Linked DNA regions of Homo sapiens. The protein of the gene in region 2 interacts with the protein of the main gene of each other region in a pairwise test. Each region holds a gene or a part of one and is shown on either strand. Other genes may lie near its edges. The genes, in order: NGFR and UFD1.

Evidence for each region.
Region 1: the proteins of UFD1 (region 2) and NGFR interact in a two-hybrid assay, tested with the Homo sapiens proteins (one large-scale study listed by BioGRID and IntAct).

The regions. Positions count from the first base shown.
Region 1 is NC_000017.11:49,494,042-49,498,092, forward strand, and holds the start of NGFR (tumor necrosis factor receptor superfamily member 16 precursor), read left to right. Parts: upstream 1-1,251; 5' UTR 1,252-1,376; coding exon 1,377-1,442; intron 1,443-4,051. UniProt on the Homo sapiens protein: Low affinity receptor which can bind to NGF, BDNF, NTF3, and NTF4. Forms a heterodimeric receptor with SORCS2 that binds the precursor forms of NGF, BDNF and NTF3 with high affinity, and has much lower affinity for mature NGF and BDNF.
Region 2 is NC_000022.11:19,454,926-19,458,935, forward strand, and holds part of UFD1 (ubiquitin recognition factor in ER-associated degradation protein 1), read right to left. Parts: intron 3,215-4,010; coding exon 3,146-3,214; intron 1,994-3,145; coding exon 1,928-1,993; intron 1,710-1,927; coding exon 1,662-1,709; intron 844-1,661; coding exon 755-843; intron 1-754. UniProt on the Homo sapiens protein: Essential component of the ubiquitin-dependent proteolytic pathway which degrades ubiquitin fusion proteins.

The DNA.
Region 1 (4,051 bases), on a different chromosome or scaffold from region 2:
CAACTCTGTGCTCCAGGGTCTTGATGTCTGGGAACGAAGAAATGGAGGGAACAGGAAAGGGGTAAGCATGGGGGTGGGTGGCATGCTTTTGGGGTTGGGAGGCATATTATTTGGACTTGGCAAGGTTTCTAGGGCAAGATGAATTTGGTCCTAGCACATGGATGGGTACACAGATATGAGTCCATTTCACCACTTTTCTATTTATTCCCTTCTACAAAACTTTCTTGAACCCTACTGTATACCAGGAATTCAGAGAAGAAACCATAATCCCTGCCTGCAGAGCTCATAAGCCCATGGAGACACTCACAGTCTGGTGAAGTCTATATTGTTGAAGATGCATCTGTTTGTTTGTTGATGGGTGTCAGTGTGTGTGTGCACTCATGAATGTGTGTGTTTGTGTGACTGTATACATGTGAGGGCTTATGCAGACACGACTGTATACATGCATGTGTGAATGTGTACATATGCGCGTTTGAATGTCCGGATCACATATGTGCCCGTGTGCATGCCTGGAGAGGTGCATGTGTGGGACAGTCAGGTCGGCAGGAGTGCATGAGAACGGTGTGGGCACACGTAAGTGCACGATCACACATACAAGTGAGCTTGAGAGTGTGTATTCCTGTGCACTGTGTGCACACCTGTGACCCCTTCAAACCCCTCATTTGAGAATCAAATGATGTCGGAATGGACTCCACCTTGAATGTCGATGGCCGAGGTAAGGGCGCCTGCGCCCCTCCCCTCCCCCTAGGCCTCTGCCCAGGGATCTCCTGCACTGGGAAGGGGAGGGGTGGGGATGGGGTGGAGGTGGGGTGATGGACTGAGATGAAGGGCAGGGAGGGCAAGCGGGCATTCTTACTGATAGGGGGCAGTTAGGGAGCAAGGCTCCAGGGAGAAGGTGAAGCCAGAGGCGGAGGAAGATGGGTAAGAGAGTGAACCCTGTGGCGGGCCGCAGCCGGAGAGGAACAGGAACCGCAGTGGGGACGCCCTGGTCCCCGGGCCCACAGCATCCGGGACGGACGCGCAGTAGCGCGGGCCGGGAACTGGGTACCAGGGCGGGATGGGTGAGAGGCTCTAAGGGACAAGGCAGGGAGAAGCGCAGCGGGGTGCGGGGAACCGCACGCCCTCCCTTTGCCTCTGCTTCCCACCCCGAGGCGGCAGGGCGGGCGGGCGCGGTTCCGGGGGTGGGCGGGCTGGGCGGGGCGGAGGCGGGGCCGCAGCACTGGCTTCACCCAGCCTCTCCCGCCCGCAGCCAGAGCGAGCCGAGCCGCGGCCAGCTCCGGCGGGCAGGGGGGGCGCTGGAGCGCAGCGCAGCGCAGCCCCATCAGTCCGCAAAGCGGACCGAGCTGGAAGTCGAGCGCTGCCGCGGGAGGCGGGCGATGGGGGCAGGTGCCACCGGCCGCGCCATGGACGGGCCGCGCCTGCTGCTGTTGCTGCTTCTGGGGGTGAGTGTTAGCCGGAGGGGGCCCGCTCCCTTTCCCGGGATCAGAACTCCGAGAAGAGCCGGGCGCCGCCACCAAGGAAACAGAACAGAGCATTGGGGTCCCAGATACTGAGGGTGGGTGGTGGGAAAGGACCTCTGATGCCGGGACCACGAAGGAGGGTCTAGGGTTCCCGGAGCGCAGAGGCGACTCTCCAGGGTGGAGATGAGGGCAAGACCGGAGCACGGATGCCGGTCCTCAGGTACCGCAGGGGGCGGTGGGGGAGCTGGGAGGGGTCTTTCAAGAGGGGGCATGGGGCTCTCCGATGCCCAGGTTCTTCGGAAGAGGACACTCGAATGCCGGGATCCCGAAGGGACTTTCCCCTCAGCATCTCGGTCTCTGGAGAGTCGTGGGACAGAACCAAGGCGAGAGAAGGAGGGGGAACTGGACGGGGACTAGAGATGAGAGGGGCGAGCTGGGCTGGGGCGGGGAGCCCGGGACGACGGGATGGAACAATGGAGGAGGTCGGAGGGACTGGAGGCAGAGGGGACCCGGCAAGGACAATGGGGACCGGCCAGACAATGGGGGGGAGGGGCGTCGGAGGGAGAGGTTGGGGAGCGGGAGAGAGGTTGAGAAGTGGGTTAGGGAGGGCAGAAGAGGGGCGACGGCGAGGGCGGCAGAGAGATGGAAGCAGAAGGAAAGGAGACAGAGCGGGGCGCGGACCCTGAAGTGGTCGGGGTCCCGCCTGCCCGCTGAGGGACAGTGAGACGAGAAGAGAGAGCAGAGGCTTGGACATTTCCAGCGCCTGTCCCCGCGCTCCTGCTCGCGGCCTCTCCCAGTCCCGGAATTGGGGCTGCGGATCTAAGGCTGGGAGGGGAGTGCCCACTTCGCCGGGGCGAACCCGCTCCCGGGGTTCCCCCACGGCCGGCGGGCTCCTCCGACGCGCGTGTTCTCACGGCTTGAAGCAGCGCAGCGGATCGCGAGGGACGGAGCGGGTGTGCCCCTACCCGGGCTGGCGGTGGCTACGTCTCGGGGTGCAGAGCGCCGGGGCGCACTAGGCGGGGACCCTTCCTGGCCGCGCGCAGCTCTGGCTACGCAGGCGGGAGGCGGCAGGCAGGGGGCGCTGCGGGGCGAGGCAAGTGCAGTCCGCCGCTGCCTGCCTGCGAGTCTGGGGCTGCGCGCCGCTCCCCACCTAGCTGCGCGACCCGAGCGCCGCGCCCACCGCGCTCCGTGGGCTCCCGCGCCTCGAAGGGTCGGGATCCGGTCTGAGCCTCTCCTGGCTCTCGGTGCAAGCCGCTGGGCACCTAACGAGACGGGGGCGCCCGGACGCCTCGGATTCTGTAGCGCGGTATCCCGGGCCACCGACTCGGCAAAGGTCGGCGGGTCCTCCGGGTGGTCCGACGAGATTGTCAGATGTGGCCTGCTTTATGGCCATGAACCGAATGCCCTGGAAGGTCTGGCAACGGAGGAGGCGTCTTCACTCTCCCCGCCAGCATCTTTCATCAGAGCACTGCGCCCCAAATTCCGGCTTTACAGATACGGAGACTGAGGCTCTGAGAGTTTAAACGACTTGGCCAAGATCTCACAGCAAGTTGGGCCAGAGTCGTGGCTAGACTCCCCGACCTGATTCCCAGCTCGGTACTCCCCCACCTTTTCAGGGGGCAGCCGCTGTCCCAGCTCGGGGTCACGGCTGCGTTTCCCAGCAGGGCGGGGGGGGTTGACACTGTCCCCAGAGTCCGTCGGCGGTAGAGCCTGCGGGTGAGGTGGGCAGAGATTCTGTCCGGGTGCGGGCCCCAGCCCGAAAGCTCAGCCCCAGTTCCCTGGAGCTGTCAGGACCTGTGGCTGCGTCCGGGGATTTGGGAGCGACCGCGGGCACGTCTGCTGACTAACGCCGCTGGTTAGAGACGCTGCTCAGACGCGGGTGGGCGAGCGTAGACCAGGAGAGCGGGGAGGAGGGACCGGATCCCAGAGGGGCAACGACTTGGGCTCCGGGTCTGGGCAAGAGCGAGGGTCCCCGCGCGAAGACCCAAGGAAGGAGGGGAGCTGGGCGTGGAGGACCTGGGCGCTTGGGAAGGTGTACCCCGACAGGAACCTGCCGTCTGCAGCCCCTGCGGCTCCCGCCTCCGCCTCGGCGCGCGGCTGCTCGGTCTGGGATGGCTGTGCGCGGTCCGAGTTTCTTCCTGGGCCGCGGTGAGAGAGAGAGGGCTGAAACCAGAGCGCGTCCCGGCGGGTCGGCTGGCGGGCCGCGCCGGTAATGGAGGCACTTTGTCATTCAGACGTCTGTAACCAGAGCCGCCGGGCTGGCTAATGCGCCTAATAGGGATGGAACGAGGGCAGCAAATGGGCGTGCGTGAGCGGCCGGGCTGAGCTGGGTGGATGGTGGATGGGGAGGCAGCTCCGCGGGGGACGGGCCCCTACCGCACTGTTCCAGCCCAGTCTGGCTCAAGCGCCTCGCTTCTTCCCTGGGGGACCGCGTGGGGAGGCGGGAATAATCGCATGTGCTGAGTTCCTACTAAGTGCCTTGCACTTCCCTGGTAGTTTCTCTTGAATTATTTAATCCTTATAAGGTCCTAGCAAGGTGAATTTAGTTATTCCCACTTCGCAGTTGAGGAAACAGAACCTTCTAGACTTTC
Region 2 (4,010 bases):
CTGCACCCCACCTGGGCCCTTTGGTGCTTCCTGGCATCCTCCCAGGAGGGAAGCAGAAAGTAACTGACTTCTTGGTTTGGTATCAATATTGGGTATAGGGCCAGGGGCTTTAGGCTCTGTACCTGTCTATGGAGAGGGGTCATCTGAAGGATTGGGAAGCCCTCACTGTCACTGTCCTGAGCTTCACAGAACCCCCTGAGGTGGCTAGACTCTCACTCCAGTATTCTGATTTCACACACACAACAGACAACTGACACACCTCAGCCCTGCCCCTGCCATCATGGCCACCAGAGGAAGGGTCTGCTGTGGGTCCCCGGACCCAGCAACAGAAGCACATCTGAGGTAGCTCCTCAGGGAACTTTCAGGGGAACTGAGATAATGTGACCTGATTAATAATTCCAAGTCACAAAACAGGAAAATAGGCAGATCACCAAATAGGGACCAGAAAGGTTTTGAGTAAGAGACAGATCTAATCAGACTCGCATCTTAGGAAAGCCAGTGGGGGCAAGAAGAGGCTGAATTGGGGGTATGGAGAGGTATGGAGAGAGGCTGGACCACAGTGGTACTGGGGGTGGCACTGTGGAAGGAGGGGCATGTTGTGCTCCACCCCACCAAGGAGAGCAGCTAAGGGTTTTAGTCCCTTGGGAGACTACTGACCCAGGCTTTGTCTCCAGAACTGGGGTGAGGCTGCCCGACCCCAGCGGGCTGGCACAGATCCTCCTCCTGTCCTGGAGGAGAGCCAGGACAGACCTACCTTTTAATATCTCCAGGCTTGATTGGGGAGGGGCTGGGCTCTACCCCTTTCTTCTTTCCATCCAGTCTATTGCCAGATCCAGAGAAAGCCTAGACAGGAAGTAGGTGAGTCATATAATAAGCCCAAGTGTGAGGACGATATGTCCTTTGCTTGGAGATCACTGCAGGGATGTGAGCTGGGGGTGCTGTGCAGACCCCTTCAGGACTGAAGCCCTGACTCCTCAACTGCTGGGGTGCTGGCAGCTAAGAACTCTGCCCAGTTCCTCAGGGGGTGGCCATGAGCTGAAGACAGCCACTTGGCCAAGGGCAGCCAGCAGTCAGTGTTGGGTTAAAAGACCTGATCCCTGCCTCTGCAGGGCCACCCAGTTCAAGCTCTATGGGTGGGCTAAGGCTACTGTTGTGACTGCCCCATAGCTCAGCTTCCCATCATTCTGCCCTCTCTGCTGCTTCCTGGCACCTCCTGCCACCTCAGTGCCCACACATGAACCACCTCCACCTGTTTCCCATGGAGCCTTGCCAGTAGTTATGCTAAGGGTCATGTTTGCAACCTACATGGTACAGGCAAAGAAAAAAGGAAACATGATTTACAAGAGAGAGAAAGCAAATGTGGTAACTTTTGGTGAACCTAAGGGAACAGTATATGTCTACTGTACTATTTAAACTCTTCGGTAGGTTAGAAATTCTTAAAAATCTGGGCTGCCTTATGGGGCTGTTGGGAAGATTCCAGGAGAGAGTGGATACAAAAGGGTTTGGTAACTGAGCGAGTGGCAGATTTGCATATGCACAGGTACCCAGAGGCCTAACCCCTGCTGATGTCCATCGAGCATCATGGAGAACACCTTGAGTGAGTGCTCTAATTTCAAGGAGCAGAGGGCACAGCAATATAAGTCAAGTGGTCTGGTACTCACGCGGAAGCCCAGCTCTCCAGCATAGCCACTGTGGTCGGCTTCACCTTCCTGACAGGGAAAAAGAAAAACAGGTGAGCTCCTCAGCGGGGACACCCAGCTTCCCTCTCACCCCCACCCCCGGCTAGGATGTCCCCCGGAAGCATGGCTGGAAGGGACGCAGAGGATATGACTACACCAACACTAGCAGAGGCCACCCACGAGCCACTGCCAGGAACTCAAAAGCAGCATGCAGCAGGACAGCAAAGGACACTGAGGATAACACTTACTGTCGACTCCTCATGCTGGACTTGTCTTTCGGGTTCTTTGTAGCCCAGGGGAGCATCAAAGTCCACCTGTGTTTCCAGGATTTTAAAAGTAAAATATTGAGACATGACCACCCTTGGCTTCCTTTTTTGTTTTTAATTGAGACAACTGTAGATTCACATGCAGTTTTAAGAAATAATACAAAAGATGCCTTGTACACTTGCCCAGTTTTCCCAACGGTAGCATCTTACAAAATTACAGTAAAGTATTGCTGCCAGGATATCAACACTGGCACAACCCACTGCTCTTATTCAGATTTCCCCAGTTTTACATGTTTTTGTTCATGGGTATCTTTAGTTCTACACAATGTAATCACTGTGTGGGGCATGTATCCACCACAGTTGAGATGTAGAACAGTTTCACCACCACTAGGACTGCCCATGTTGTCTTTTTATAACCATACCCAGCTGTCTCCCAGCCCCCTCCACCAGTCCTAAGCCCTGGCAACCACTGGTCTGTCTTCCATTTCGAAAGTTCTGTCACTTTGAGGATGTTATATAACGAAGTAACTTTTTGGGATTGGCTTTTTTTGCTCAGCAGTATTCCCTAGTAATACAACCAGGATGCTGTGTGCATCAGCACTTCATTCCTACTCAGAAGGTTCAGTACGCTTCCTTAGCTCTTAAGCATATTCACTCCTCGGCCAGGCGCGGTGGCCCACACCTGTAATCTCAGCACTTTGGGAGGCCGAGGCGGGTGGATTACCTGAGGTCAGGAGTTTGAGACCAGCTTGGCCAACATGGTAAAACCCTGTCTCTACCAAAATACAAAACTAGCCGGGCCTGGTGGCACATGCCTGTAATCCCAGCTACTCGGGAGGCTGAGGCAGGAGAATCGCTTGAACCTGGGAGGTGGAGGTTGTAGTGAGCCAAGATCGCACCACTGCACTCCAGCCTGGGCAACAGGAGTGAAACTAAGTCTCAAAAAAAAAAAGAATATTCACTCCTCAACGGGTCAGAGCTAACCATGGCAGCACTGGCAGCAAACTCTGTTGCCCCAACTGGCCCTGAGATAGATCACAAGGTCACAGTCTCCTCATGATGTTCTGACAGCATCTTCCTCCTCTTTACCCAGAGTCCCAGGGGCTGTTTGATGCCCTCCTGACACCCTGGCCTGCAGTGGTCACCAACTGCCCATCCTCCCAGGGCCCAGGCTCACTGTAACTGGACAGAGCCACTCACGTTCATGTCACACTCAATGATGGACACTGCCTTGTCGGGTTTGGTCTCCATCACACGCAGTTCGTAGATCTGTGGGGCAAACACAGAAATCAGTTGGATGGTTTCCTGGCAGCACTGGAGCTGTCGCTGTCCATGTTACTGTGGCTCTACTGGCTCCTGCGAATGACACAGCATTCATGCCCATGACACAACCTACAGCTGCACTTCTTGCTGTGACAACACTGCCATAAGGGACAGGCTGCCCTGTGCCCATCGCTGAAGAGATGCTGTTCCCCAGATATGGTTCAAATTAGACAAGGTAGTTATACAGCTAACTGCAAAAGACACTAACAACCTTTAACCTGGAAAGTTCACTTCTGGAACTTTACTATTTATTTTATTTATTTATTTTTAGACAGAATCTCGCTCTATCGCCCAGGCTGGAGTGCAGTGGTGCGATCTTGGCTCACTGCAACCTCCGCCTCCAGGGTTCAAGCACTTCTCCTGCCTCAGCCTCCCTAGTAGCTGGGACTATAGGCATGTGCCACTACACCTGGCTAATTTTTGTATTGTTGTAGAGATGGGGTTTCACCATGTTGGCCAGGCTGGTCTCGAACTCCTGACCTCAGGTGATCCGCCCACCTCGGCCACACAAAGAACTGGGATTACAGACATAAGCCACCGCACTCGGCCTTCGAAATTTATTCTAAGTAAATAACTAGCTATACCCAATGAGAAAATTCTAAGAATGCTCATACCAACGTCACTAATACCACTGTACAGATGCTCCTTGACTTATGATGGAACCAAGTCCCATAAACTTATAAGTTAAAAATGTATTAATATTCCTAACCTACCAAACATCATAGTGCAGCCTGCCTTAACC